Homo sapiens: one gene and its partners. The protein of the gene in region 3 interacts with the protein of the main gene of each other region in a biochemical or structural test. Each region holds a gene or a part of one and is shown on either strand. Other genes may lie near its edges. The genes, in order: USP8, USP20, USP28, USP4, TRIM55, MAP3K1 and HIF1A.

Evidence for each region.
Region 1: of the proteins of USP28 (region 3) and USP8, one has a biochemical effect on the other in vitro, tested with the Homo sapiens proteins (one large-scale study listed by BioGRID).
Region 2: of the proteins of USP28 (region 3) and USP20, one has a biochemical effect on the other in vitro, tested with the Homo sapiens proteins (one large-scale study listed by BioGRID).
Region 4: of the proteins of USP28 (region 3) and USP4, one has a biochemical effect on the other in vitro, tested with the Homo sapiens proteins (one large-scale study listed by BioGRID).
Region 5: of the proteins of USP28 (region 3) and TRIM55, one has a biochemical effect on the other in vitro, tested with the Homo sapiens proteins (one large-scale study listed by BioGRID).
Region 6: of the proteins of USP28 (region 3) and MAP3K1, one has a biochemical effect on the other in vitro, tested with the Homo sapiens proteins (one large-scale study listed by BioGRID).
Region 7: of the proteins of USP28 (region 3) and HIF1A, one has a biochemical effect on the other in vitro, tested with the Homo sapiens proteins (one study listed by BioGRID).

What each region holds. Positions count from the first base shown.
Region 1 is NC_000015.10:50,427,083-50,431,208, forward strand, and holds part of USP8 (ubiquitin carboxyl-terminal hydrolase 8), read left to right. Parts: intron 1-4,126. UniProt on the Homo sapiens protein: Hydrolase that can remove conjugated ubiquitin from proteins and therefore plays an important regulatory role at the level of protein turnover by preventing degradation. Converts both 'Lys-48' an 'Lys-63'-linked ubiquitin chains.
Region 2 is NC_000009.12:129,838,168-129,842,293, forward strand, and holds part of USP20 (ubiquitin carboxyl-terminal hydrolase 20), read left to right. Parts: intron 1-4,126.
Region 3 is NC_000011.10:113,865,314-113,869,439, forward strand, and holds part of USP28 (ubiquitin carboxyl-terminal hydrolase 28), read right to left. Parts: intron 1-4,126. UniProt on the Homo sapiens protein: Deubiquitinase involved in DNA damage response checkpoint and MYC proto-oncogene stability. Involved in DNA damage induced apoptosis by specifically deubiquitinating proteins of the DNA damage pathway such as CLSPN.
Region 4 is NC_000003.12:49,326,055-49,330,180, forward strand, and holds part of USP4 (ubiquitin carboxyl-terminal hydrolase 4), read right to left. Parts: intron 1,763-4,126; coding exon 1,632-1,762; intron 1-1,631.
Region 5 is NC_000008.11:66,130,129-66,134,254, reverse strand, and holds part of TRIM55 (tripartite motif-containing protein 55), read right to left. Parts: intron 1-4,126. UniProt on the Homo sapiens protein: E3 ubiquitin ligase that plays an important role in regulating cardiac development and contractility, muscle growth, metabolism, and fiber-type differentiation.
Region 6 is NC_000005.10:56,884,814-56,888,939, reverse strand, and holds part of MAP3K1 (mitogen-activated protein kinase kinase kinase 1), read right to left. Parts: coding exon 4,114-4,126; intron 3,009-4,113; coding exon 2,877-3,008; intron 1,563-2,876; coding exon 1,420-1,562; intron 715-1,419; coding exon 583-714; intron 1-582. UniProt on the Homo sapiens protein: Component of a protein kinase signal transduction cascade. Activates the ERK and JNK kinase pathways by phosphorylation of MAP2K1 and MAP2K4. May phosphorylate the MAPK8/JNK1 kinase.
Region 7 is NC_000014.9:61,733,004-61,737,129, forward strand, and holds part of HIF1A (hypoxia-inducible factor 1-alpha), read left to right. Parts: intron 1-1,134; coding exon 1,135-1,282; intron 1,283-3,885; coding exon 3,886-4,106; intron 4,107-4,126.

The DNA of each region.
Region 1 (4,126 bases), on a different chromosome or scaffold from region 3:
AGCATGTCACCAAGCCCAGCTAATTTTTGTATTTTTAGTAGAGATGGGGTTTCACCATGTTGGCCAGGATGATCTTGATCTCTTGACCTGTGATCCACCTGCCTCAACCTCCGAAAGTGCTGGAATTACAGGCGTGAGCCACCGCGCCTGACCCATTTCCAATTTCTTTAACCGTAATACTTTATGTTGTAATGGCATATTACAGTTTTCAAAGCATGTTTTTGTATATTTTTTCACTTGATACCTATGGTCACCCTATAGAAGCAGACAAATAGTTCCTATTTCATTTTGCAGATGAAAGTAAACTGAAGAGTGGTGGTGGTATTGGGAGTGATTTACGGAATTTGTTCAAAGTCATATGATTAATAAATGGAAAGTAAGGCCTGCAACAGTTCCATAATATTAAATTTATTAGTACTGAATGATGAAATATTATATTAAACTTATTTGGAATTCTACATTTATAGCCGTACTAATTTTTTTTTTTTTTTTTTTTTTGAGACGGAGTCTTGCTCTGTCTTCTAGGCTGGAGTGCAGTGGTGAGTTCTCGGCTCACTGAAATGTCCGCCTCCTGGGTTTAAGCAATTCTGCTTCAGCCTCCCGAGTAGCTGGGACTATAGGCACCTGCCACCATGCCCGGCTAATTTTTGTATTTTAGTAGAGATGGGGTTTTGCCATGTTGGCCAGGCTGGTCTTGAACTCCTGACCTCAGGTGATCTGCCCGCCTCAGCCTCCCAAAGTGCTGGGATTATAGCCGTGAGCCACCATACCTGGCCCTTTTTTTTTTTAAACTGAGACAAGGTCTTGCTCTGTCACCCAGGCTGGAGTGCAGTGGCATGACCTTGGCTCACTGTAACCTCTGCTTCCTGGGCTCAAGTGATCCTCCTGCCTCAGCCTCCCAAGTAGCTAGGACTGCAGGCACACGCCAGCACACCTGACTAATACCATACTAATTCAAGTAAAACAGTTCTCATGTATAGTGAATAAGGGTTAACTAAGCCTTGTCTCTTTTGACTAACACATTACAATTTAGTTTTTTGTTTGTTTGTTTTTGAGAGGGAGTCTTGCTCTGTCACCTAGGCTGGATGCAGTGGCATGATCTCGGCTCACTGCACCCTCCGTCTGATGGGTTCAAGCAATTCTCCTGCCTCAGCCTCCCAAGTAGCTGGGATCACAGGCATATGCCGCCACGCCCAGCTAATTTTTTGTGTTTTAGTAGAGATGGGGTTTCACTGTGTTGCCCAGGCTGGTCACGAACTCCTGAGCTCAGGCAATCCACCTGCCTCGGCCTCCCAAAGTGCTGGGATTACAGGCGTTAGCTACCACGCCGGGCCTACAATTTAGTTTTTAATAATGCAGCAGTCTTCCTCTTATCTGCAGGGGATATGTTTCAAGACCTCCAATGAATGCCTGAAACCACAGATAGTACTGAACCCTATATATACTATGTTTTCCCTATATATACATTTTTATGATAAAGTTTAACTTATAAATTAGTAACAAGAGATTAACAACAATAACTAATAATAAAATAGAATAATTACAACAATATAGTGTAATAAAAGTTATGCCCTGTGGCCATAACTTGTGCAACTTGAGGTGTGACAGCAAAACTAGCACAAATTTCTTTTTCCTTCATAATTTTGCAGATAAAAGATCTTACCATAGATCTTAGCAACCTCAGCATGAGGTTTTTGGTTTTTTTTCTTATTAGGTTGAGAACTTTCACCTTTTTGCTTAAAGGAAGCAGTTTACAACTTCTTTTTGACATACGTGAATCTCTGCTTTTACACTTTGAAGCCATGATTAAGTAAAATGAGGGTTACTTGAACACAAGCACTGTAATACTGCTATAGTCAGTCTGGTAACTGAGACGGCCACTTAGTGATTAACAGGCAGGTAGCATCTACAGTGTGGATACACTGGACAAAGGGATGATTCATGTCACAGACTGGGCGAAGTGAGGTGGTGCACAATTTAAAACTTATGAATTGTTTATTTCTGGAATTTTTTATTTAATATTCTTGGACTGTGGTTGACTGCAAGTAGCTGAAACCATGGAAAGCGAAACCATGGATAAGGGGGGACTACTACACTAAATTCTGAAACATACCAATAATGGTGTAAACCCACATGTCTTTTTAATAGAGTAAAATGAAATAATTACACATTATAATACCAATTTCAGAACAAGAGTTATGGGCATAAGCATCCTGGAGGTGTTTTTTTTTTTTTTTTTGGAGGTGTTATTTTAATTTCTCAATTACAGAGTTTTAAAAATGAAAATGATTTTTTAAAATTTTGGTAGGTTGAATGATTTAAGATGCTGATTTCAGCTGGAAACAAATTGTTGCCTTCATATTATTTTGTTGCTCCTAGCAGCATGTTTATATTCATTCTTATATTGATGGTTCCCAGTCTTGACTGGTGTTAGAATTCATTTGGGAAGCTTTTTAAAAATACCTATGTGGGCAAGGCGAGGTTGGCTCATGCCTGTAATCCCAGCACTTTGGGAGACCTAGGCAGGAGGATCACTTGAGCCCAAGAGTTTGAGACTATCCTGGACAACATAGTGAGACTCTGTATTTTTTTAAATATATAAATAAGAAAATAAATACCTGTGTGTATGTCTCATCCATAGAGATTCTGATTTAATTGTTTAGGAGTGGGATCTGAGCATCAATATTTTTTTAAAGTTCTCTAGGTAACTGATTCTAACATACAGCTGGGATTGAGAACTATGTTTTTGGTGCATGTTAAGTACGATCTGGCTCCCTACTTAATGATTTTGCATCTGTTAAAAAATTAATGAGGTAGAAGACAAAAGAAATGGATTAAAGTTATAAATGTAGATAGACATCTATTCTGGAAAACAGTTACCCTTTTGTTAGTTTCTGGGAATGGTCCTTAATAAAACAAACAGACATTGGCCTGGTTTGCTAAGTGCCTATATCACAGCATTAAGCCACACTTTACTTTGTTACCGTTATGTACTTAACTTTCATTTTAAGAGGCAGAAACTTTATTAAGAGTTGTATTTTTTTAGTATCCCCTGTATCACAACACTGCACCTTGTGTATAGTAGGTATCTATTGTTTACCTAATTGAAGCCAGTTTAGACAGTCACTCTTTAGAACTAGGGCTAGTTCAGCTCCTTGGGAGGCTGAGGCAAGAGAATCGCTTGAACCGGGGAGGTGGAGGTTTTGGTGAGCCGAGATTGCGCCACTGCTCTCCAGCCTGGACAGCAGAGTGAGACGTCATCTCAAAAAAATAAAGAACTAGGGCTAGTTTATTCTTTTCTTTTCTTTTTTTCTCATGGCATTCTAAGACTCCCCCAATTAGACAGGGTCTCCCTCTATTGCTCAGGCTGGAGTGCAATGGTGTAATCATGGTTCATTGCAAGCTCAACCTCCCAGGCTCAAGGAAGGCCTCAGCCTTCCGAGAAGCTGGGACCACAGGCGCATGCCACCATGCCCTGCTAATTTTTTATTTTTTTATTTTTTTTTTGTAGTGATAAGGTCTCACTGTGTTGCCCAGCAGTTCACCAAATCCTAGATAACATAATTTTGGTGTCAATACTTAATTATCTTCCAAAACAATAGGGATTATCAAAGTCAACATTGATGCCTTATTAGTTGATAAACAGATTTAATATCTGTCTGCTCTCACATATAACTGATTTCTAGTTAATATTTACATCTTAAGATGTTCCTTTGGCATACACTCAACATTTTCCACATCGAATTACCTACTTTGCTGTAAACCAGTGGTTCTTGTTGGGGGTAATTTTGCCTTCCAGGACACATTCGGCAATGACTGTAGACAGTTTTGGTTGTTACAACTGGAAGGGAAGGATGATAGTAAACTGGCGTCTAGTAGAGGTTAGGGATGCTGCTAAACATCCTGCAGTGCACATTGCACAGAGCAGCCTCTCACAACAAATGTTTATCTGGTCCAAAATGTGAGTGATGGCAAGGTTGAGAAACGCTGCTGTAAACTGATCAGTTTTAAACTGCAGTATTACTTTTTTTGTTAATAGCACTACTGCTCTTCATATTTTGCAGGGTACAGTGTGTGTGCCTCTGTGTGTGTGTGTGTGTGTGTGTGTAAGCAAGAGAAAATACTG
Region 2 (4,126 bases), on a different chromosome or scaffold from region 3:
AGTAGCTGGGATTACAGGCGCCCACCACCACACCTGGCTAATTTATGTATTTTTAGTAGAGACGGGGTTTCACCATGTTGGCCAGGCTGGTCTCAAATTCCTAACCTTGAGTGATCCGCCCGCCTCAGCCTCCCAAAGTGCTGGGATTACAGGTGTGAGCCACTGTGCCCGGCTAACAACAAATATTTAAAGGCAGGAAAGTGGCAGTGCTCTTTGGCTCCAGTGAGCAGTCATGGCTCAATAAATAGAAATTTCAGGAGAGCCAATTTCCATTGATTATAAAGACTTAGGTTTGTAGCAACTAGAGCTGCCCTCTGGGAAAAGGGTGATTTTATCATCAACGACTGCTCAAACTGGGTTTGGAGAACAACCCAGTATGGCTTTTACAGAGCAGAGTTGTGCCTTAAGGGGAAGATGCATGGTTTCTAAACCCCTTTAAACTCTGAGATTGCATGGGGGAAGGCAGCTGCAGATCATGCTGCCTGAAAAGAGAGGATCTGATTTCAGGCCCCAGAAATCATGATTTTCCTAGTTCTTAGTTTCCGCATCTCTAATGTGAGTTTTTTCTAAGGTTTCTAGTCTGAGCTTCGAGACTGAGTTTCTGCTCATGCTTACTCACCACTGAGTGTGAGGCTTTTAATGACCTGGGCCAGTGACTGGCTGCAGCCTAGGGTAGCCCCAAACCCACGCCTTCTCCAATTAAGGGACTCTTCCGGACAGAGCTCAGAGCAAAGGGTAGTAGCAGGCTTTGAGCTGCAGGGAGATACTGTCATATCCTAGACTGAAGGAAGTTAAGCTGAGCAGAAAAATGCTCTGAAGAATGACTCAGAAGAGGCTCTTGTGAGGAAGCTTCCTTGGAGTACGCGTGTTTGGATTTGGGGAGGTGAAGGTCGTCCCCATGCCAGGCTGGCCGGGGCTGTTTGTGACATCGTGGAGCTGAGTGTTCAGAGCATGGGCTTCAGGGCAGGTAGTCGTGGGTTCGAATTTTGGTTCTGCAGCTCAGTAGCTGTGTGACCTTAGCCAGTTATTCCACTTCTCTGAGCCTCGGTGTCTCCATTGTTAGTGATGGAGATGGATTTAGTTTGGAACCTTGCCACCTCCCAGGGTGGTTGTGAGGGTCCAGTGAGGTCACATGTGAGAACACCAGACTAAGATGTTAGTGTCAGTTCCAATATTCAGGGCCGTGGGGCAGGGGGAAGGGCGATGAGGAGACACAGAAGTGTGTGGGCAGCAGAGACTGTGGAAGTGTGGAGGCATGGGGAGGCCTGAGGGCTCTGCTTCGAGAGTCAGAGGATGGTGGCCTCCGAGTGAGGACTGGGTTAAGGGAAGGGGTGGGTGTGTCTGGGACTTAGGGAGAATGCTGTTGTGTGGAGGTAGAGTAAAGACAGCAGGAGGGAGAGAAAGGGTGTGCGAGGGCCAGAGGGGACTGTGGAGGGGGTGGGCACACACCCTGTGCGGGGCTGGGGGTGTGAGATGGCTAATGTGGTTGGGGTCAGCGTGGGCAGGGCTGTGGGCATCGTTGTGTGGGTGGGAGGCCCAGAAGTGTCGCCCTCCCCATCCTGAGGGACTGGTTCCTCGCTGGGAGGAGGAGGATGTAGCCAGAACCTCTGGGAAAACAATGAGTAACAGGCACCAGAGGCAGCCAGGTCCAGATGTGCTGCCTACCTAGGACCACAGGCTGTGCTGGCTGGTCCCTCCCCTGCCCTTCCTCAGGCCTTGCCCCTCCACTTTGCCCCTGTGGGTGGAGTGGCACTTTCCCCCACCCTGGAGGCCCAGGGAAGGAAAGCTGCCTTTATGAGCCTGAAGCATCTTGGAGGTCTCCTGGGGCCAGCAATGGTGGGCTCTTTGCCAAAAGTCTCAGGCCTTCCTCCCCCCATCCTGTGCTCTCCTGCCCCAAGAGAGGAGGCTCTGGTGGGCCGGGAGGGCGGGGCACACGCTGCACCTTGCTGACTTGTTGTACAGTAGGTCCTACTCTGCGTGGCTGCACCTGGAAGCACGTTCTTTCAGCTGCACAGGTGTCTTTCCCTTTTGGCCTTTATGAAATGCCTGCTGTGCACACTCCATATATTTGCACAGAGGCACAGGTGGGACGGAAAGAGTGGGGAAAGCAGACACAACCTGCTCGCTTCCTGCTGTGTTGCTTCCTGTCTGGGACCTTCCATTCCTCCTCTGTGAGATGAGAAACAGCCGCCCTTGCCCTAGAGAGTGGGTGAACAAAGCCCTGGGTACCAGGTCTGGAGGCTCAGTGGGTGCTGGGTCCTGGATCCTGCGATGGGGCTGCCTGTTCCAGAAAACCCGCTCCCTGCTCCCACCTCAAAGGTGAGAAAGGGAATCTATTTTTTTAAAAAGTCAAACTTAAGAAAAATTACAAGAATACAATGAACTCCCACATACCCCTCACCTAGATTCACGAATTAGTAACATTTGCCTTATTTACTCTAACTCTAATCTCTATAGTTATTGTCATAATTATTGCTGATTCAGGTAGGAGTAAGCTGCAGACATCACAGTCCTTTTCCCCTAAATATCCCAGCGGGAATTAACTAAGAATAAGGATATTATCATACATAACCAAAGCGTGAGTTCCACCTTTAGAAACTTTTTTTTTTTTTTTTTTTTTGAGATAGGGTCTTGCTCTTGTCACCCAGGCTGGAGTGCAGTGGCGCCATCTCAGCTCACTGCAACCTCCGCCTCCCAGGTTCAAGTGATTCTTCTACCTCAGCCTCCCGAGTAGCTGGGACTACAGGTGCCCACAACCATGCCCGGCTAATTTTTGTATTTTTAGTAGAGACGGGGTTTCACCACGTTGGCCAGGTTTGTCTCAAACTGCTGACCTCTGGTGATCCGCCAGCCTCAACCTCCCAAAGTGCTGGGATTACAGGCGTGAGCCATCACTCCCGGCCTAGAAACTTTCACATTGATGGAATCATGTATTTGTTTCCCAGACCTGCCATAACAAAGTACCACAGACTGGGTGGCTTAAACGACAGAGATTTATTTTCTCACAGTTCTGGAGGCTAGACGTCTCAGATCAAGGTGCCGACAGGTTTGGTTCTTCTGAAGGCCCTTTCCTTGGCCTGCAGATGGCCATCTTCTCACTGTGTCCTGGCTTGGTCTTTCCTCTGTGTGAGTCCGGATTTTCTCATCTCATAAAGATACCAGTAAGATTAGATTAGGGCCTGCCCTAAAGATCTTATTTTAACTTAATTACCTCTTTAAAGACATTATCTTCAAATATGATTACATTCTCAGGTCCTGGTGGTTAGAACTTCAGCATATGAATGGGGGAGAGAGAACAATTCAGTCCATAACAAATACTATGATCTAACAGGCAGTCCACACTCAGGCATGCTGGTTGTCCTGGGGATGTTCTTTGTGGCATCCCCCCACATTGACCCACAATCCAGCTTTGTTATGTCTCCTCAGTGTCTTGCCTGGAACAGTTTCTCAGCCTTGGTGGAGAAAGGGAACCTTCACGTTGCAGGGAAGCAAAGGTGCTCAGCAGGAATGGGGGTTCAGAAGCGCAGGCTGCCCCAGGACAGGGAAGCTGTTGAAGGGTTTGCTCTAGTCCATGAAGTTGCCTTTCCTGGCTTTTTCTTTGATGTCAAAAGCACCAGGAGGTGAGCTTAGATCTCAGGAAGCGCACCAAGAATCCGTGCATGAGTCCCCTGCGGTGTGTCTGACTCCATCACCATGGCGCCTGTTCGTTGCTGGGCTGGTTGGCCTGCAGAGCCCTGAGTGGTCTCATGGAGGGTGCCCTTCTGAGTGACCTTGAGCATGTGACTTCTATTCCTACCAATTTCAGTGTCCTAATGTATAGAACAGCCAGTGACACAAATTATAGTAGTAAACATTTTTTGAGCATTCTTGTCATGCAAATCAATAAAAAATCTGAGCCACCCAGAAAGTCCATGAGGCCCTAAGTCATTCAACTTAGCGTTTACTGTGCATTGGCTCACTTCATCTTCTCAGTAACCCTAGGTGCTGTCATTGTCCCCATTTTATGAATGTGGAGACTGAGCGATTTATCTAAAGTCACAGACTTGCAAGGGGCAGAGTGAGGTACTGAACCCAGGGCTACTTGTCCCTGTAATTTCCTTCCATAGTGACCGTTACCTCCCGGGAT
Region 3 (4,126 bases):
TGGCCTTTCTTGCAGAAACAGAAAAGCTGATCCTCAAATTCACACAGAATTTCAAAGGACCTGGAAGAACTAAAACAACATTGAAAAGAAGAACAAAGTTGGAGGACTCACACTTCTTATATCAAAACTTAGTATTAATCCAAAGCTACGGTTATCATAACAGTGTAGTACTGGCATAAGGACAGATATATAGACCAACAGAATAGAACTGAGAATCCAGAAATAAACTCGTATCTGTGGTCAACTGATTTTCAACCAGAGTGCCAACACCATTTGATGGGGGAAAAATCATGTCTTCAACAAATGGTATTGGTACAACTGGATATCCACAGCAGAAGAATCACACTGGACCCCTACCTCACACAATACACAAAAATTCCTCAAAATGGATCAACAACCTAAATAAATAACTAAAACTATAAAATTCTTAGAACACAGAGATAAGTCTTCATGACCTTGGATTTGTCAATGGATTCTCAGCTATGACACCAAAAGCACAAGCAACAAAAGAAAAAAATAATAACACTTTTGAGCCAGGCATGGTGGTGTGTACCTGTAGTCCCAGCTACTTGGGACACTGAAGTGGGCTGATGTACTTTTCTGCATCAAAGGGCATTATCAAGAAAGTGAAAAGACAACCGGTATACAAATTCAAGAAATAAACACATACATCAAGAAATCCAACAAGAAATATACAGTGCTGGCCGGGCACGGTGGCTCATGCCTGTAATCCGAGCACTCCGGGAGGCCAATGTGGATCACCTAAGGTCAGGAGTTCAAGACCAGCCTGGCCAACATGGTGAAACCATCTCCACTAAAAATACAAATATTAGCCAGGTGTGTTGGCACGCGCCTGTAATCCCAGCTTCCTGGGAGGCTGAAGCAAGAGAATCACTTGAACCCAGGAGGCAGAGGTTGCAGTGAGCCGAGATCAGACCACTGCACTCCAGCCTAGGTGACAGAGCCAGACTCTGTCTTGGGGAAAAAAAAAGAAAAAAGAAATACACAGTGTACAAATTATCAAGAAAGTGAAAAGACAATGGGAGAAAATACTTTTAAATCATTTATCTGGTAAGAGTCTAGCATCTGGATGATATAAAAAACTCTCTTTGAACTCCCTTTAAGTCAACAACCAAAAAACGAGACAACCCAATTCAAAAATGGACAAAGAACTTAAAAAGATATTTCTCCAAAGAAGATATATAAATAGTCAATAAGTTTATGAAGACACTTAACATTAGCCATAACATTAACATGGCCAAATCAAAATCATGATGAGATGCCACTTCACACCCATTAGGATGACTGTTATCTAACAAAAACAAAAAATAACAAGTGTTTGATGAGAAAAGAGAAAAACTAGAACCCTTGTGTATTGCTGGTGGGAATATAAAACTTCCCCAGCAACCTTGGAAAACAGTCTGGCAGTTCCTCAAGAAGTTAAACATAGAATTACCATATGAGTCAACAATTCCTTCTAGGTATATACCCAAAAGAAGGGAAAACAGGTACTCAAATACAAGTATATGAAAATTCATAACAGAACTATTCATAATAACCAAAAGGTGTAAATAACTCAAATGTCCGTCAATGGAAGAATGGACAGGCAAAACATATCTATACATACAGTGGAATATTACTCAGTGATTAAAATGAAAAACTCATACATGCTACAACTTGAACAAATCTCAAAAACATTACAATAAACGACAGATGCCACACATAATAGGTCACATATTGCATGATCCATTTACATGAAATCTCTCTAATACGTAAATCTAGAGACAGAAAGTAGATTGGTATTGCCAGGGGTGGAGGGCATGGGGGAATAGGGAGTGACTGCTTAATGGTTACAAAGTTTTCTTTCAGGGTAATGAAAATGTTTTAGAACTAGACGGAATTGGTGATTGCACAATATTGTGAATATATTAAATGTCACTGAACTTGTACACTTGAACTTTTTTTTTTTGGAGACAGAGTTTTACTCTTGTCACTCAGGCTAGAGTGCAGTGGCATGATCTCCGCTCACTGCAACCGCTGCCTCCCGGGTTCAAGTGATTCTCCTGCCTCAGCCTCCCAAGTAGCTGGAATTACAGGTGCTCACCACCACATCTGGCTAATTTTTATATTTTTTAGTAGAGACGGGGCTTCACCATGTTGGCCAGGCTGGTCTTGAATTCCTGACCTCAGTGAGCCACCTCACCCAGCCCCACTTTAAAATAATTTTATGTTATATAAATTTTGCCTCAATTGAAAAAAAAAAAATCACCTGGGTGCAGTGGCACACACCTGTAGTTCCAGCTCTGCAGCAGGCTGAGGCAGAATGATCACTTGTGCCCAGGATTTTCAAACAGTAGTACACCACGATCATGCCTGTGAATAGCCACTGCACTCCAGCCTGAGCAACATAGCTAGACCCCAACTCTATGAAAAAACAAATGAATAAGGAAACCTGTATACACATCCCCACACAAAAGGAAAGAAGGAAGGGGGGAGGGAGGGAGGGAGGAAGGGAGGGAGGAAGAAAGGGAGGAAGGGAGGGAGGGAGGGGACACAAGAAAGTACTAACTTGGGCAAGAAGATTGAAAAAGAAAATGTTGTTTAGAAAATCTTCTTAGGGTTAAAGTGCCTACCAGCCATCATGTAGCATGCAGCTGGTACTTACTGAGGCAGATCTTTAGTTTGGTTTTGTGTGTCTGATATTTTGACCCCTGTTTTACGTAGAAAGCCTAGACGCTGGAAATAGTGCCATGCAGCCCAGACTCCAGCACACATCAGCCTCCTGGCAAATCTCAATCTTCCTCAGCATCAGTTTCCAGAATGGAAAATGAAGTACACCAAAAGCTTTGACAGCCCTGTATGACTATCAAAGGAAGTACTGCAAATAAATTGTTAGCAAAATGAAGAAATGCAATAGAAATGAAAAATACTGGGACTTGCCTGTTCAACTAAACTCCTCTAGAGTTTACAGTAAAAATACTGATATCCTGTGTTATAGTTTTGGTTTTATCACTTACTTGCTGTGTCACTTTGCAAATTCTACTTCCTGCTCATACTAAATTTTATTTCATAGAGTGCCTATGAGGGTTCAATGAAAAGTTATTAAAATTATTAAAGTGCTACATAGTCAAGTGGTAAGTCAGAAACTTTGGTTTTAGAAAGGCTTGTACTAAAGTCGGAGAAATGTTATGCTTCAAGTCAGAATGGCTTGAAGTCACAGCTCTGCTACTTATAATTCAATCATGGTCATAAGCTGCATTTCTCATCTGTAAGATAGAAGCAAACAGACTTCAGTTTAAAATCTCATACGAATAAAGAAAAAAAGAGATAGGTACCATGGTTCACGCCTGTAATCCCAAAACTTTGGGAGGCTCAGGCGGGAGGATCACTGGAGCGCGGGAGTTCAAAACCAGCCTGGGCAACATAAAGAGACCCCCCATCTCTACAAAAACTAAAAATATTAGCTAGGCATGGTGGCACATGTCTGTAGTTCCAGCTACTCTGTAGGCTGAGGTAGGAGAATTGCTTGGGCCCAGGAGGTTGAGGCTGCAGTGAGCCATGATAGAGCCACTGCACTACTCCAGCCTAGGTGACAGAGTAAGACCATGTCTCAAAAAAAAAAAAAAAAGACAAAAGAAAGAAAAGGAATAAATAAAATAAATCTCATATGAGGCCCTTATAAGGCATACTAACATCTGAGGTCAGGCACGGTGGCTCATGCCTGTAATCCCAGCACTTTTGGAGGCTGAGGCAGGATGACTTGGTTCATAAGTTTGAGACCAGCCTGGGCAACACAGAGAGACCCCATTGCTAAAAAAACTTTTAAAATTAACCACAGGCTGGGTTCGGTGGCTCACGCCTATAATCCCAGCACTTTGGGAGGCCAAGGCAGACGGATCACCGGAGGTCAGGTGTTCAAGACCAGCCTGGCCAACATGGTGAAACCCCGTCTCTACTAAAAATACAAAAATTAGGCGTGGTGGCATGTGCCTGTAATCCCAGCTACTTGGGAGGCAGAGGCAGAAGAATCAATAGAACCCGGAAGGCGGGGGTTACAGTGAGCTGATCTCACGCCACTGTACTCCATCCTGGGCAACAGACTGCGGTCCGTCTCAAAAAATAAAAT
Region 4 (4,126 bases), on a different chromosome or scaffold from region 3:
GCTTGTAATCTCAACACTCTGGGAGGCCGAGGTGGGTGGATCACTTGAGGTCAGGAATTTGAGACCAGCCTGACCAACATGGTGAAACCCCATTTCTATGAAAAATACAAAAATTAGCCGGGCATGGTGGCATGTGCCTGTAATCCCAACTACTCAGGAGGCTGAGACAGGGGAATCGCTTGAACCCAGGAGGTGGAGGCTGCAGTGAGCCAAGATCGCTCCACTGCACTCCAGCCTGGGCGACAGAGCGAGACTCTGTACCCCGCAAAAAAATATATATATATTTTTTTTCTACCCACTAAGACCAAGAGCATCTTGATGATATTAGAGAGAAGCCTATTCTTCACTGTTTTTTGTTTTTGAGATGGAGTCTTCCTCCGTCAGCAGCCTGGAGTGCAGTGGTGCGATCTCAGCTCATTACAACCTGCACCTCCTGGGTTCAAGAGATTCTCCTGCCTCAGCCTCCCGAGTAGCTGGGACTACAGGGGCCCACCATCATGCCCAGCTAATTTTTGTATTTTTAGTAGAGACAGGATTTCACCATGTTGGCCAGGATGGTCTCGATCTCTTAACCTCGTGATCCGCCTGCCTCAGCCTCCCAAAGTGCTGGGATTACAGGCGTGAGCCACCATGCACGGCCTGATCAAAGACTCTTTTTTTTTTTTTGCAACCGAGTCTCACTCTGTTGCCAGGCTGCAGTACAGTGGGGTGATCTCGGCTTACTGCAACCTCCGTCTCCTGGGTTCAAGCAATTCTCCTGCCTCAGCCTCCCGAGTAGCTGGGACTACAGGTATGTGCCACCACACCCAGTTAATTTTTGGATTTTTAGCAGAGACGAGGTTTCACCATGTTGGCCAGGGTGGTCTTGATCTCCTGACCTCGTGATCCACCCGCCTCAACCTCCCAAAGTGCTGGGATTACAGATGTGAGCCACTGCGCCTAGCTCAAAGACTCTTAAGCATAGAGGGAAAAGCAGTATCATAAAGGTTTTTTAAGATAAACAAGATGCAGGACATTAGCTATATGTCCATATGCCCCCAGTGAACTTTCTCTCATAGAATTTTCCAGAAAGTTCTCTCACAGCGCTGCTGGGCACATTCCAAGCCACTGGGCAGCTCTGATGTTTAGAGGCCACTCATGATAATATTCTGGGTGAGCAACTTCACTCACAACCACAATTTCCTAAAGAGAACCAGAAACAGGCTGGGCGTAGTGGCTCACGCCTGTAATCCCACCACTTTGGGGGGCCGAGTCGGGCGGATCACAAGGTCAAGAGTTTGAGACCAGACTGGCCAACATGGCGAAACCCCGTCTCTACTAAAAATACAAAAATTGGCCAGGCGTAGTGAAAGGCGCCTGTAATCCCAGCTACTCAGGAGGCTGAGGCACGAGAATCACTTGAACCTGGGAGCCAGAGGCTGCAGTGAGCCGAGATCGTGCCGTTGCACTCCAGCCTGGGCGACAAGTGCACAAGACTCCATCTCAAAAAAAAAAGAGATCCAGAAACAAGGCCTCAAGCACCACTATTCAACCACTGAGGTATGTTCATTTTCCTAGCAAACACTAGTCAGTGTCCAACAGAAAGCACCTGCAGACAGTGACCAGCAGGTGGGACAATTCACATAACTCACTTTTCTGACGATGGGTTGCTGGCCTTCTACACAGCCGTACCAGTTTAGTAGTTTATTCCACGCCTCGGTAGGGACCAATACATAGTCCAATTCATCAATTAAGTGTTCTTTCAAGGTCTGACTCTCAGGATCTAAAAAAGGAAAAGAGCACATAAGTCACTGCTCTTTACCCCAGAAATGATGGTTTTACATGATTTCCATGTACTTTTCAGAAATAAGAAAATTATTTACAGAAAGAAACAGGAATGAAATTCCAAAATTCTGTCACTGGTCATTATACAGAGCAGACTTTTGTCTTTATCCATGTTTTCTCTTTATCCATGAAGATTTTATGAGGAATTTGTATTTCTTCTATAATTGGAGGGAGAGAAGAGGATAAAAAAGAAAAACTCCAGGCTGGGTGTGGTGGCTCACACCTGTAATCAGCACTTTCGGAGGCTGAGGCGGTTGGATCATGAGGTCAGGAGTTTGAGAGCAGCCTGGCCAACATGGTGAAACCCCGTCTCTACTAAAAATATAAAAATTAGCCGGGTGTGGTAGCGGGCACCTGTAGTCCCAGCTACTCGGGAGGCTGAGGCAGGAGAATTGCTTGAACCCGGGAGGCAGAGGTTGCAGTAAGCCAAGATCACGCCACTGCACTCCAGCCTGGTGAAAGAGCAAGACTCCATCTCAAAAATAAATAAATCATACATGAGGTGGTTATGGTTTCCCACCATCCCTCCGACTAGTTTACACACCTTTTTCAGGGCAGGGTTCCTTTGTTGTCATTTCAACAATGCTCATAACATCTTCACCAGACATAGATTCCATCTCAAGAAACCATTTTCTTTGCTCACCCATAAGAAGCAACTCCTCAGCCATTCAAGTTTTATCATAAGATTAAAGCAATTCAGGCCGGGCATGTTGGCTCATGCCTGTAATTCCAGCACTTTGGGAGGCTGAGGCAGGCAGATCACTTGAGGTCAGGAATTCAAGATCAGCCTGGCCAACATGGTGAAACCCCATTTCTAGTAAAAATACAAAAATTAGCTGGGCATGGTGATGCATGCCTGTAGTCCCAGCTACTCGGGAGGCTGAGGCATAAGAATTGCTTGAACCCAGGAGGTGGAGACTGCAGTGAGCCGAGATACCCCACTGTACTCCAGCCTGGGTGACAGAGCAAGACTCTGTCTCAAAAGAAATAAAAATAAATAAAAATTAAAATTAAAAATAGGCCAGGCGCAGTGGCTCACACCTGTAATCCCAGCACTTTCGGAGGCCGAGGTGGGCAGATCATGAGGTCAGGAGTTCAAGACCAGCCTGGCCAGGGTAGTGAAACCCCGTCTCTACTACAAACACAAAAATTAGCTGGGCATGGTGGTGCACACCTGTAGCCCAGCTACTTGGGAGGCTGAGGCAGGAGAATTGTTTGAACCCAGGAGGCGGAGGTTGCAGTGAGCCAAGATTGCGCCACTGCACTCCAGCCTGGGTGACACAGCGAAACTCCATCTCAAAAAAAATAAAAATAAAAGTAAAAATAAAAAATAAAGCAATTCAGTCACATCTTCAGGCTTCACTTCTAATTCTAGTTCTCTTGCTATTTCCACTTTTGCTGTTACTTCTCCCACTGATGTCTTGAGCCCGTTGAAGTCATCCGTAAGTGTTGGAATGAACTTCTTCCAGACTCCTATTAATGTTGATTTTGACCTCCCATGAATCATGAATATTTTTGTGTGTGTGTGTGGGCAGGTGGGAGTGGCAGGCCTTACTCTATCACCCAGGCTGAAGTGCAGTGGCATGATTACAGCTCACTGCAGCTTCGACCTCCCAGACTCAAGCAATCCTCCTGCCTTAGTCTCCCAAGTAGCTAGAACTACAGGTGCATGCCACCAGGCCTAGCTAATTTTCGTATTTTTTATAGGGATGGGGTTTTGCCAAGTTGCCCACCCTAGTCTCCAATTCCTGGGTTCAAAGGATCCACCTACTTCAGCCTGCCAAAGTCCTGGGATTATAGGTATAAGCCACTGCACCAGGTGGAATCATGAATATTCTTAATGGCATCTAGAATGGTAAATCCTTTCCAAAAGGTTTTCAATTTAATTTGCCCAGATCCTTCAGGAGAATCACTATCTATGGCAGATAAAGTCTTATAAAATGTATTTCTTAAATAATAAGACTTGAAAGTTGAAATCAAATCAGGCACGCTGGCTCAGGCCTGTAATCCCAGCACTTCGGCAGGCTGAGGCGGGAGGATCACTTGAGGTCAGAAGTTTGAGACCAGCCTGGCCAACATGGTGAAACCTGGTCTCTACTAAAAATACAAAAATTAGCCAGGTGGAGGGACGGGCACCTGTATCCCAGCTACTCAGGAGGCTGAGGCAGGAGAATTACTTGAACCTGGTAGGAGGAGGCAGGAGAATTGCTTGAACCTGGGAGGGAGAGGTTGCAGGGAGCCAAGACTGAGCCACTGCACTCCAGCCTGGGCAACAGAGTGAGACTCTGTCTCAAAACAAACA
Region 5 (4,126 bases), on a different chromosome or scaffold from region 3:
AAAATTCAAATCCAAATCCAGAAGCTTTCTTCAAATTTCCAAACACATAGTTATTTAGCAACATCTTAGATTTGGGACTACATTTTGTTTTGTTGCTATACAGATCCAATTTTTAAAAACTACAGGTTTTTATGAGCCATGAAATCAATTTAGGGAGCTATGATCTGCATTGTTAAAATAAAAATAGAATGGAATAGCAAATACTGTGAATTACATGTAGTAAAAATAAGTATTGCTGTTCGAAACTTTTGTTTCAGGTGTACGTGTGTATATATGTGACTGAAACAAAAGTATATGTGTGTTTGTGTGTGTGTGTGTGTTTGTGTATGTGTGTATATACATATGTGTGTGTATATATATCCGTCCATATATGTAAGTGGTCACAATGTAAAATGCACTTCCTACTGTAAATCATGAATACAAGTGTTTGAAACCCATCTTTTTTGATGTGTGGTATCTTGTAGCTGCAGACCCAGAACTCAGAGAAAGGCAGAGAACGTGCTGATGTGCCTCTGTAAGACGCTAATGTTCCTTTATAAGTTGCTAGGTGGACGTCAATTACTTGAGATTAGGCTAAACATTGGGAGAAGCCCTGGGTCTTGTAAGAAAATTGCACGGACTTCCAGTTTCAAAATTTTAGAATCTGACTGTTGCAAAAGGAATTTCTGTCTGGTCTTGCAGCAATATGCTTTCCATGAAGTCTATGACCTTCTGATTTGACCACATTATTTGGAACTCAAATAAGGAAGTCAACTCCACAATTGAGAAAATTATCCTCCTCTCAGGTCTGTCTGTTTCCTCCACTAGAATATCAGCTCCATAAGGGCAGGGGCCATGATGAGTCTTTTTTTTTTTTTGCTGCATCTCCAGTACTCGGAACAGTGCCTTGCACAGAGGCAGTGGCTCCATAAATATTTGTTGCACAAATGAGTGAGACAATGAAAGGGAATTTGACCTATTAAATGGACAGTATTCCCTGTGCTCTAGTGTAACACCACCCAGCTGGAGAAGGCATGGCAAATATGGGGAAAGCCTGGGATCACCTGGCACTCCTGAGTGGCAGAGGAAGAGACCAGACCACATCCTGATTACTCCTTTAATAAATGACAGTGCCCTCTGGGGTTGGGACTGGCAAGTTGGTCTCTGCCTGGTCAAAGGCTTCTTCCCCTCTAAACCCTTCCCTCGTAGGTATCTCCACCTTATTATTAATGTGGGCTAAGCAAGAGTGGGCAGCTTGGGTCCCACATGCTGTTCTGATATCAACAGCTGTGACCAGAGATTGCGTCATAGAGCACAGGTCTATGCAGTATATGCAAATATTGAAAATGTGAAAACAGCCATAAGGCTCTACATTTAGTTTTGTTTGTGATTCAATTTATTTATTTTTTTCATGGTGCTGTATACACTGAGAACAATTTCCCATATTCCTCATTGGGTTTTTCTTATTTAGGTTGTAGCCCAGCCCCAGAGGCACCACTTACTCATAGATGAGCATATAATGAAACCTCTGTACAACTTCAAACATGTAACTGACTTGGGACCGATTTGGCATGTAAAAGAATGACATAAATACATGTTTATGAGGTGAGAGCAGCCAAGCTCACAGCTGTGGTCAGGGCCCAGTGCTAAATGTTGGCTGTGGCCCCTCACCGTTCAGTGTAGGCTAGACTGAGAAGTATGTAGCCTGCTGTCTCTGGTCTCTGAGGTTCCCGGGGCCACCCTAGAGTTTCCTGAGGAGTGGGCATCTGGTCTTGGTGAGGCAATTGAAGTAGTAACTTTGTAGTCAAACTGATATTTTTTTTGAGATGGAGTTTTGCTTGTCGCCCAGGCTGGAGTGCAATGGCTCAATCTCAGCTCACCGCAACCTCCACCTTCCCGGGTTCAAGCATTTCTCTTGCCTCAGTCTCCCAAGTTGCTGGGATTACAGGTGCCTGCCACCACACCTGGCTAATTTTTTTGTATTTTTAGTACAGATGGAGTTTCACCATGTTGGTCAGGCTGGTCTCAAACTCCTGACCTCAGGTGATCTGTCCACCTCAGCCTCCCAAAGTGCTGGGATTATAGGCGTGAGCCACTGTGCCTGCCCAAACTGATCTTAAAGCTTCATTTCAGCTCAGCTTCTCCATGTAGTGGCTATGTGGCCTTAGACAAGTTACTTAACCTCTTCTGGTCTCAGTTTTTACTCGTATCAAATATCAGATTAAGGGTCTTCTAATTAAATGTGGCAGAATGAACACAAGCATGTATTTATTTATGTATTTATATATGTATGTATGTATTTATGTATTTATTCTGCTGAAATCCCAGTGAAATGAGGATAAGGAAATAAAAGGGCATAAATCAATAAGGACAAAAAGTGAGCACAGATGACAGCAGATGAGAGATGTCAACCAAATGTTGGAAATTAGGAACATCTGGATGAAGGGACATGACCTACTTGAGTTGCATCTTAGTTCTGTTACATTCCTGCAGTGAGAAGCTTACAATAAGCAAGCTGACTTGAGCTATGGAACCCTGGAAAGGCTCTGGAACTGCAGGAGCCAGTAGTCCTGAAGGTGGAAGTAGGCGGTGACAGACTGGGAGAGGCTGAAAAGAGGAGGACTTTGTGCATGTTTTAAGAGATTACTTGAGGATGTGCTCCATAGAAATAAGAGAGTAAGCCACCAAACAAGGAGACCTGGAATCCAGGGAGCAAGGGGTTCAACCCAGGGGGAGAGTAAAAGAATTCCCAAGTAGAGGTAAAGCCCAGCCATGTGAGGGCTCAGTCCTAATTGTCTACAGTGGAAAGTCAATAGAAAATGTCTAAAATTGAAAAATCAAAGAATAGGAGCATACCAGTAGTATGCACATGTCATTGGTGATAAATAGCAGAAAAACAGCTAAAAGAATTAAAAGTGGTTGACTCTGGGGAATGAGGCTTGGGGGTGGGTAAAGAGAGAACAGAGTGGAGACTGCATTTCTCTTCAGAGGCCCAGTAGTAATGAATTCTAAAAGTTGTGTATGTTGATTACTTTAAGGCACTAAAAGCTTTAATAGGGTAGCAGTAATTATAATAATCAACACCTCACCGGATTATTGTGAGAATTAAAGAATTGCACATGATTCATGTGTTAGGCACCCTGAACAGTGTCTGGCATGCAGCACATAGTAGTTTTACTTGTTATATTTTAAAGTTAATTATTATTATATTAATTATTAATATTAGCCAAAATAGTACCTTCTCTTACCATCTCCCACTCCCAACTGTGGCTAGTCTGGCACCATGCAGAATTCTGGATAAGAATGCCAAGTTTTGGCTGGGCGCAGTGGCTCATGCCTGTAATCCTAGCACTTTGGGAAGCCGAGGCGGGTGGATCAAGAGGTCAGGAGATCGAGACTATCCTGGCTAACACGGTGAAACCCCATCTCTACTAAAAATACAAAAAAATTAGCTGGGCGTGGTGGCAGGTGCCTGTAGTCCCAGCTACTTGGGAGGCTGAGACAGGAGAATGGCGTGAACCTGGGAGGCAGAGCTTGTAGTGAGCCAAGATCACGCCACTGCACTCCAGCCTGGGAAACAAAGCAAAACTCCATCTCAAAAAAAAAAAAAAAAAAAGAATGCTAGGTTTTGTGGAGACTTACAGTCTCCAGCCTTTCTGGAGGAGGTCAGAGTTGACTGACAACATCCCAGTCTGTGATTGGTCACCCCCCCCGACCCCCTTCCAATAGCCACAGCTGAACTCTTTTCATTCTGTATATCCAAGGTCATTCCAGTGTTACCTAATGTACCCTGAGGCTCAAGATTCTGGTCTAGTAAGGCTGTCTGCCCCCAGGGGACAACTGCGTTTCCTCCCAGACATGTGGCCAAGTGCTCTGTGCAACTTGTGGTTTTGCTACCAAGTAAAATTGTCCCACAGGAAAGTCTCAAGTTCAAGAAAAAACAGCATAACAAAATCACAGAAAATCACAAAAGCATCCCTAGTTCACTCAACTATGAGCTTTATTGTTGGAAATTTGGTTCATTGCTTTTACGCAATTTACTTCCCAGGCCTGGGTACTATTTTTGGCAGCTGCACCAAGCCAACTTCATAGCTAAGGTGAAGATGTGTTTTGTAGTTTTACCAATACTGCAAGTTTTAACATCTCT
Region 6 (4,126 bases), on a different chromosome or scaffold from region 3:
GTCACTAACATTGACAACACCATTGACAATATCAACTCCTGGAAATACACACATACACAGATGCTCTTCAACTTACGCTGAGGTTATGTCGTGATAAACCCCTTTTAAGTTGATGATATTTTTTTAAGTTGAAAATGCAGTTAATACACCTAACCTGCCAAACATTATAGCTTAGTCTGGCCTACCTTGAATGTGCTTATAATACCTACATTAGCCTACTGTTCCGCAAAATCATCTGACAACACAGTCCACTATAGAGTATTGGTTGTTCACTCTCGTGATTGTGTGGCTGACTGGGAGCTGTGACTCGCTGCCACTGCCTAGCATCACCAGTGTATCATAGCACATATTGCTAGCTCAGACAAAAATCAAAATTCAAAGTATGGTTTTTACCAAATTTGTATTGCTTTTGCACCATCTTAAAGTAAAAAACTTGTATATCAAATCCTCTCTGAATAAATATACAGACTATTTATTTACCTTCATGCTAGATTGTTAGGGAGAACCCATCAAAATTTGCCTCCTGCCAAATTCTGCTGTACTCCTTTTAGCACAAAGAAGTAATTTTTATCTCACAATTACCTTAAATATCAAAGCAAGATGATTGGAGTGTTTTTCTGCATTCCATGGTGGTTTTGCACAAGCCATTTCTATAATAGCACAGCCAACACTCCATACATCACAGCTCCTTCCATACTGTTGACCTCTTAGTACCTAAAATAAATCAGAGTTAATTTGGAAATAGGACTCATTTGAAAAAGAGAAGGCCATTTTGTAGTTATAGATTCTACTTCCTTACTTTAGGGAGAAAACTGGTACAAACAGGAATTCTGTGGACTACCTAATATCTAATTTATTTCATTAATGAGCTTAATTTTCCAGGTAGCACAAAAATATTTTGGAGAATTGTGAGATTCTGAAGCAGAGTCCCATCACAGAATTTTGCTCTTAGCAAACTATGTGGCAAGAGGACAACAGATCATTACTACATATGAACATGAAGAATTATGAACACGACAGAAGAAGCTGAGTCAGAAGAACAATGCTTAAACTCCTTCCACTACAGACAGGAGCTGCCTCTGTATGCTCATCTCCTTTTAGAATAGAGAGAGAATATTTTTAAAAATTTCTTATGTGCACTTTGAGTTTATTACAAAACAACTGCTATAAATTACCCCAGAATTCTTTATTAGTAACAGCCGTTAAGTAAATCTATTAAAACCTGTTTTTTGAATATTGCCAAGGCAAAGAAAGGTCGAGAATAAGGGTCTGAAAGATATTATTAAAACCGTATTTTAAGGGCCACGGACTTCTAGTTGGTAAGTACATACTGGATACCACTGCAAGATAATTTAGTATAATGCTGTTACACAGAATTCCAAAATATTTTCTGTCATCACACTCAAAGATGCTTCTCACCTCAGGTGCCATAAATGCAATTGTCCCCAGTAATTGTCCCTGAAACTCTCCTGCACCAGTTCCTTTTGATGCCAACCTGGCTGCAGCTCCAAAATCTGCAATTCTTAGTCTCTGACCAGTGCTGTCAATTAGCAAATTGGCACCTGTCAACAAACACAGCAAATGACCTTGTATGTTAAAAACAAAAATAAGGACAGATAAAAGCCCAGTACAATACTAATGAACTAGGACAATGACAAAAGAAAGAAGTGAACTACATGTCAGAGGTGCAAACAGTTATTCTCTTTTCCTTTCACTTCATTCTTGCTAAAGGCACACAGCTCTCTCTAGCGTACGCTAAATTCATAATTAGAGCTTAATTTAAAAAGTTATAAAATTACTTCAACACATTATGTCAAATACTAGCTAAAAAGACTAATGACAGAAAACCAAATTTGCTCTTGAGAAAAATAAACTGAGGCCAGGTACGGTGGCTGACGCCTGTAATCTCAGCACTGTGGGAGGCTGAGGCAAGCGGGTCGCTTGAGCCCAGGAGTTCAAGACCAGCCTGGGGGCAACATGGCAAAACCCCATCTCTACAAAAAATATAAAAAATTAGCCAGGCATGGTGGTGCACACCTGTTGTCCTAGCTACTTGGGAGGCTGAGGTGGGAGGATCACTTGAGCCCAGGAAATGAGTTACAGTGTGCCAAGTTTGCAACACTACACTCCAGCCTGAGTGACAGAGAACCTGTCTCCAAAAAAAAGAAAAGGATAAGGAAAATAATGGGACCTACAAAGGATTTGAAGGAATTTTTCTTAAAAGAAGTTGATGATATCCCAATATCCCAATTATTCAAAATAAAACCAGGAAAAGGAACTTTCTGGGAGTCAGCGTATCATGAGGCCAAGACAGGGAATCTGGAGACCTGTGTTGTATACTTTCTGCCATTAACTAGCAATAAAACTGTAGAAAAGGCACAGCCTCTCTTGTATTCAATGTACTTTTCTATTAAACGAGGAAGGCAGATTAAATGATCCCTAAGGCTCATTTCAGTTCTAATATTCTGAATTACTCAGAGAAAAAAATCCCACTGTTAGAAACTATCAACAAAGGTCCATTTTTTTGTTCTTCTTTGAGACAGAGTCTCACTCTGTCACCCAGGCTAGAGTGCAGTGGTGTGATCTCAGCTCACTTCAACCTCTGCCTTCCGGGTTCAAGCAATTCTCCTGTCTCAGCCTCCCAAATAGCCAGGATTACAGGCATGCGCCACCTTACCCTGTTAATTTTTGTATTTTTAGTAGAGACAGGGTTTCACCATGTTGGCCTGGCTGGTCTCGAGCTCCTGACCTCAAGTGATCCACCTGCCTTCACCTCCCAAAGTACTGGGATTACAGGTGTGAGCCACTGTGCCTGGCCCCAAATTTTAAAATTAATTTTTTTATTGTCACTAGATAATAATTAGAAGAATTCTCACCTTTGACATCTCTGTGAATGATTTGGTTTTCATGGAGATACGAAAGGCCACGGAGTAACTGTTCAGTGTAGTTAATAACTACTGATTCTTTGAAGGCTCCATATTTACTCAGCAAATGAGCCACCGATCCCCCTATAAGACAATAGAAATAATTATCATAAACTTAAGACAGAATTAAAAGTATTTATTACACTTTGGTTTCTAAAGTTTTCACTGCATGAACTCACATTCACATCTGAAACAGAAGAAAAACATTTCAAAACTAACATATTCCTGTATCATCTCAAAAACCTACTAATTAGGAGACATTTTCACAGAACCCACAGGGAAACCAGTTTATTGGAGAGTCAAGATTTCAGAAAGCTGTAAAAGTTAACAATTTCGGATTAAACTATTTCTGAAATGTACAATTCAATTCTCTGTCTTCTCAAAATACACAAAACAACTTTATTAATGACTAAAGTAAACAATGTTAACATATTATGTAGTAAAAGGTGGAAAGAATGGGAGGAGGAACAGAAAACCCAGAGTTAGGCGTCATATTCTACCATTTACTAGCTCTGACCTGGAACATGTCTCAAATTTAGCCGCTTTTAAAAGTGTTTATAGTAGTCAACCTATCTACTGTAGTGTAAATCTTTATTAAGACCAACCAACAGATAACATACTTAAGAACTGACTGGTAAAGAGAAATGCACTCTTAAATACACACACAAATCTAAGAAGTTAAACCAAACAATCTGTTCATCACATCAGGTCATTAATTTTATTGTATACATTGTATAATACAAAATAAAACTCAGTCTTCATTTATTTCAGCAGATGACAAGGTTCAACTTTATGCTTCAGTGCTAGTTTACTTGTAGTAAGTTTTCAAGTTATATGTTAATTTTGTTTGTATATTGTTATGTTAAAACACTTCCTCATCTGTCCAATTTATCATGGCTACCTGGAAATATACATATCTTATACATATCAAGTATTAAAAACAACAATGCTACACAATCATTTAAAAACACACTGGAAAAATTTAAAAGGTAGAGGTAGTCAATATTTCATTTATAGTAAATGAAATACAAAACGAAGTATTTGTGGTTCATACTAATATATTGGGGTGATTTGTTTTTAGAAACCCAAACTATTTGATAGAAATAAATTTTAATTAAACTGGTTTTTCCTAAATTGCAGAAAGTTAAATCCACGTACTACTATTTTGTAATTTAAAACATTAACATACCTGCCATCCATTC
Region 7 (4,126 bases), on a different chromosome or scaffold from region 3:
TAAATGGAGTACCTATCACCTCAAGCATTATCTTGTGTGACAAACAATCCAGTTATACTCTTTTGGTTATTTTTATTTTATTTTATTTTATTTTTTTCTTTTGAGACAGGATCTCACTCTCGCCCAGGCTGGAGTGCAGTGGAGCAATCTCAGCTCACTGCAACCCCCGCCTACCGGGTTCAAGAGATTCTCCTGCCTCATCCTCCCAAGTAGCTGGGATTATAAGCATGTACCACCATGCCTGGCTAATTTTTGTATTTTTAGTATAGACAGGGTTTTGCCATGTTGGCCAGGCTGGTCTCGAACTCCTGACCTCAGGTTATCCACCTGCCTTGGCACCCGGCCTCTTTTAGTTTCTTTAAAATGTACAATTAAATTATTTTTTACTATAGTCACCCAAAACAAGTACCTTTGACATAAGATTTGATTCTGAATTTTACTCAAATGAATGTTAAGATCCCCAAGATAAGTTAAACTTTGGACTATCTCACCTGTTTAATCTGTACCTATGCATGACTTCCCACTGTGCTTGAGGATACCTGAATATCACTGAGTTTGTGTGACTGATCAGCCTTGAACTCAAGAGTAAATCCAAGTCTGCAGTCAGGACACCCCAATCCTCAAAATAATACCATCATTAGCATTTATTTAGTACTTTCTCCCAAATCAGTATTTAATTTAAATTGCCAAAAGACTTACAATGTGGTATCAATTTATATTTAAATATGCTACATATAGCTTTTTAAAGCATCTTTGGTTCTCTGGAAACCATAGTCAGAATTTAAGGAAGTTATTGTGGCACCATTTTCTTGAAAAAGGCTATTGATTATTCTCTAATCTGACACCAACCTAAGTCATTAAAGGAATTTTAGTTACTGAAGATTGTATATTCATGAACTCTTCACTTAGCTCACTGGCAGCAAAGGAGTTTTATTTAGGGGGTTTGAAAAAGGAAATGGGTACATTTTCAGCTATTCTGGGACGCACTGTCAGAATGTAAGCAGTTACAACTGATTCCACTAAATAAACATTTGTTTTCCAAAACAATGATGAACATTCAGCATCTGTTCATTTAATTGAAAATTCAAAGTTAAAATATTTTCTCTGCATGATTCTTTTTCTTTTCCCCCCTAGTGTTTACTAAAGGACAAGTCACCACAGGACAGTACAGGATGCTTGCCAAAAGAGGTGGATATGTCTGGGTTGAAACTCAAGCAACTGTCATATATAACACCAAGAATTCTCAACCACAGTGCATTGTATGTGTGAATTACGTTGTGAGGTAAGTAAGTTTGAGAAATAAACATTTTTGGGGAACAAATAGTAATTCTTTTTGGATACTCTGTTCATTTATAGGAAGATAAGATAATAAATATTAACTAAATTTTAATTCTTTTACATCGCTACCAAATTATTATTTTCTATACTCTGACCTAGGTTTCCAGTCCAGCTATTCCACAGTGATGCTGCTAAACACTGTCAGTAGTTGTCTATCCCCATACCTTCACTCCTATTTTTAAAAAGACCATGAAAAAAATACCAGATCCATTGATTGGTTTGGTCTAATTATACAGATATCGGCATATACTATCTCAAGACAGCTGTGTTCTTTTTGTAGGAAGAATCCTGGCCTAGATTTGTATCATAGCTCTACCACTCATTAGCTCCCTGACCTTGGGGAAGTCTCTTCATTTTTCTGAATTTCATCTATGTAGATAATCCTTCAGAAGGTTATAATGAAAATTAAATGAAATTCTATGAGATTAGGGAGGGGGGAGGGATAGCATTAGGAGATATACTTAATGTGAATGATGAGTTAATGGATGTAGCACACCAACATGGCACATGTATACATATGTAACAAACCTGCACGTTGTGCACATGCACCCTAGAACTTAAAGTATAATTTAAAAAAGAAAAGAAATTCTATGAGATTAATAAGCTATATGATGTAATACATGGCTCTTGTATATTCATGAACTCTTCACTTAGCTCTTTGGCTTGTGAATATTATGTACATCAAAATTTAATTTTTCATTTGATCTATTTTACTAGACTCCTGCCCCATCTAGTCTACCTGTCCACATTATTACCACATTCTAGTCCATCTTGCCCATTACTACCAGGCTAAGCTTTCTAGTGTGGATATGTCATCATCTTATTTTCCTTAGAATTTTAGCGATCTTTTTATCATTTCCAAGATAAACACTTGCCTAGGTGTACAGCATCCTTGTTTACCATCATACTCACGCATTAGAGATTTAGCCTTCCCTTTAAAATCTAGGGTCACTCCTCTTAGGAAGACTTTGGGCAGTTTTTATTTTTGCTACTTCTGACACCATCCTTTAATGTTTTAATATTAGTGCCACAGAGTTCTTTTGTGACTTTACCATTATGTAAGAATCTTCCACTTGGAATGTCTTTCTCTTCCTCACACCCCAGTCTGCCTAGCAAATGCCACTTGATCCCAAGTATCAGCTTGTTAGCTTCTCAGTGAAGCAAGCCTTCTCTATTTTAGCAGTTATCACAGTGTATTTTAATTGTTTACATATCTACTTTCACAATGGGTTATAAATTTCTTAAGGTCAAGGGTTGGCTATTTTAATCTTTGCATTATCAGTTCATTTCAGATAGTGAACATTTAATACGTTAATTAAAGGAATAATTTACATTTAAGCCAAACGTGAAGATAAACTATTGCTCATCATCCCTCTTCAGCCGTATCCTGTAGGTGGTATCACCTTATATTCTTACCACCAAAGAAAATATGGCCCCTCTCTTAGAAAGATCTTAATCATTTATCTGTGTATCTTTAGGACTATCCTTAGATCATGCCTCACATATTGATGCCAAAGAGTTCTTTTGTGCCAATTTCATAATGTGTGTCAGCACAACAATTCTGAAGATTTGTTGGTGTCTTTCATGTACTTGACTACAAATTGCCTTGCCATTACTACTCTTCTCAAAGGATATCTGAAATTCTTTTTTTCTTTTTTTTTTTTGAGATGGAGTCTCACTGTCACCCAGGCTGGAGTGCAGTGGCGTGATCTTGGCTCACTCCATTTCCCGAGCTCAAGTGATTCTCATGCCTCAGCCTCCCAAGTAGCTGGGACTACAGGTGTGCACCACCACACCGGGCTAATTTTTTGTATTTTTAGTAGAGACAGGGTTTTGCCATGTTGGCCAGGCTCTTGAACTCCCAGGCTCAAGCGATCCACCCGCCTCAGCCTCCCAAAGTCCTGGGATTACAGGCATGAGCCACCACGCCCAGCCTGGATATCTGAAATTCTTAACTGAAATTAGTCAAATTATCTTGTACTGGGGATTTTTTTTTTAATTTCAACTTTTATTTTTGATTCAGGGGATACATGCATAGGTTTGTTACATGGGTATATCATGTGATGCTGAGGTTTGGGGTACAATTGATCCTGTCACCCAGGTAGTGAGCATAATACCCAACAGTTGTTCAACCCTTGCCCCTCTCCCCTAGTAGTCCTCAGTGTCTATTGATGCCATCTTTATGTCCACAAGTAACCCAGTGTTTAGCTCCCACTTACAAGTGAGAACATGCAGCATTTGGTTTTCTGTTCCTGGGTTATCTCACTTAGGATAATGGTCTCTGGATGCATCCATGTTGCTGCAAAGGACATTATTTCATTCTTTTTTATGGTTGCATACTGTGGATTTTATTGGGTCTTTATTTTGTATTAGCATTTTAAAACCCTAAATGTGACACAGTACGCATGAGTGATCATGCATCTCAAGAAATCTTGAAATGTTCCTGTCCATAAAGCAGAATTTTTTAAGAGACCATTTCACAGTCTCCCTTCCCCTCACTGTATCAAGTGCTCATTTGTGAATTACCAATTTCTCTTGTTTTGACAGTGGTATTATTCAGCACGACTTGATTTTCTCCCTTCAACAAACAGAATGTGTCCTTAAACCGGTTGAATCTTCAGATATGAAAATGACTCAGCTATTCACCAAAGTTGAATCAGAAGATACAAGTAGCCTCTTTGACAAACTTAAGAAGGAACCTGATGCTTTAACTTTGCTGGCCCCAGCCGCTGGAGACACAATCATATCTTTAGATTTTGGCAGCAACGGTGAGTAGTTATTTTTGTTA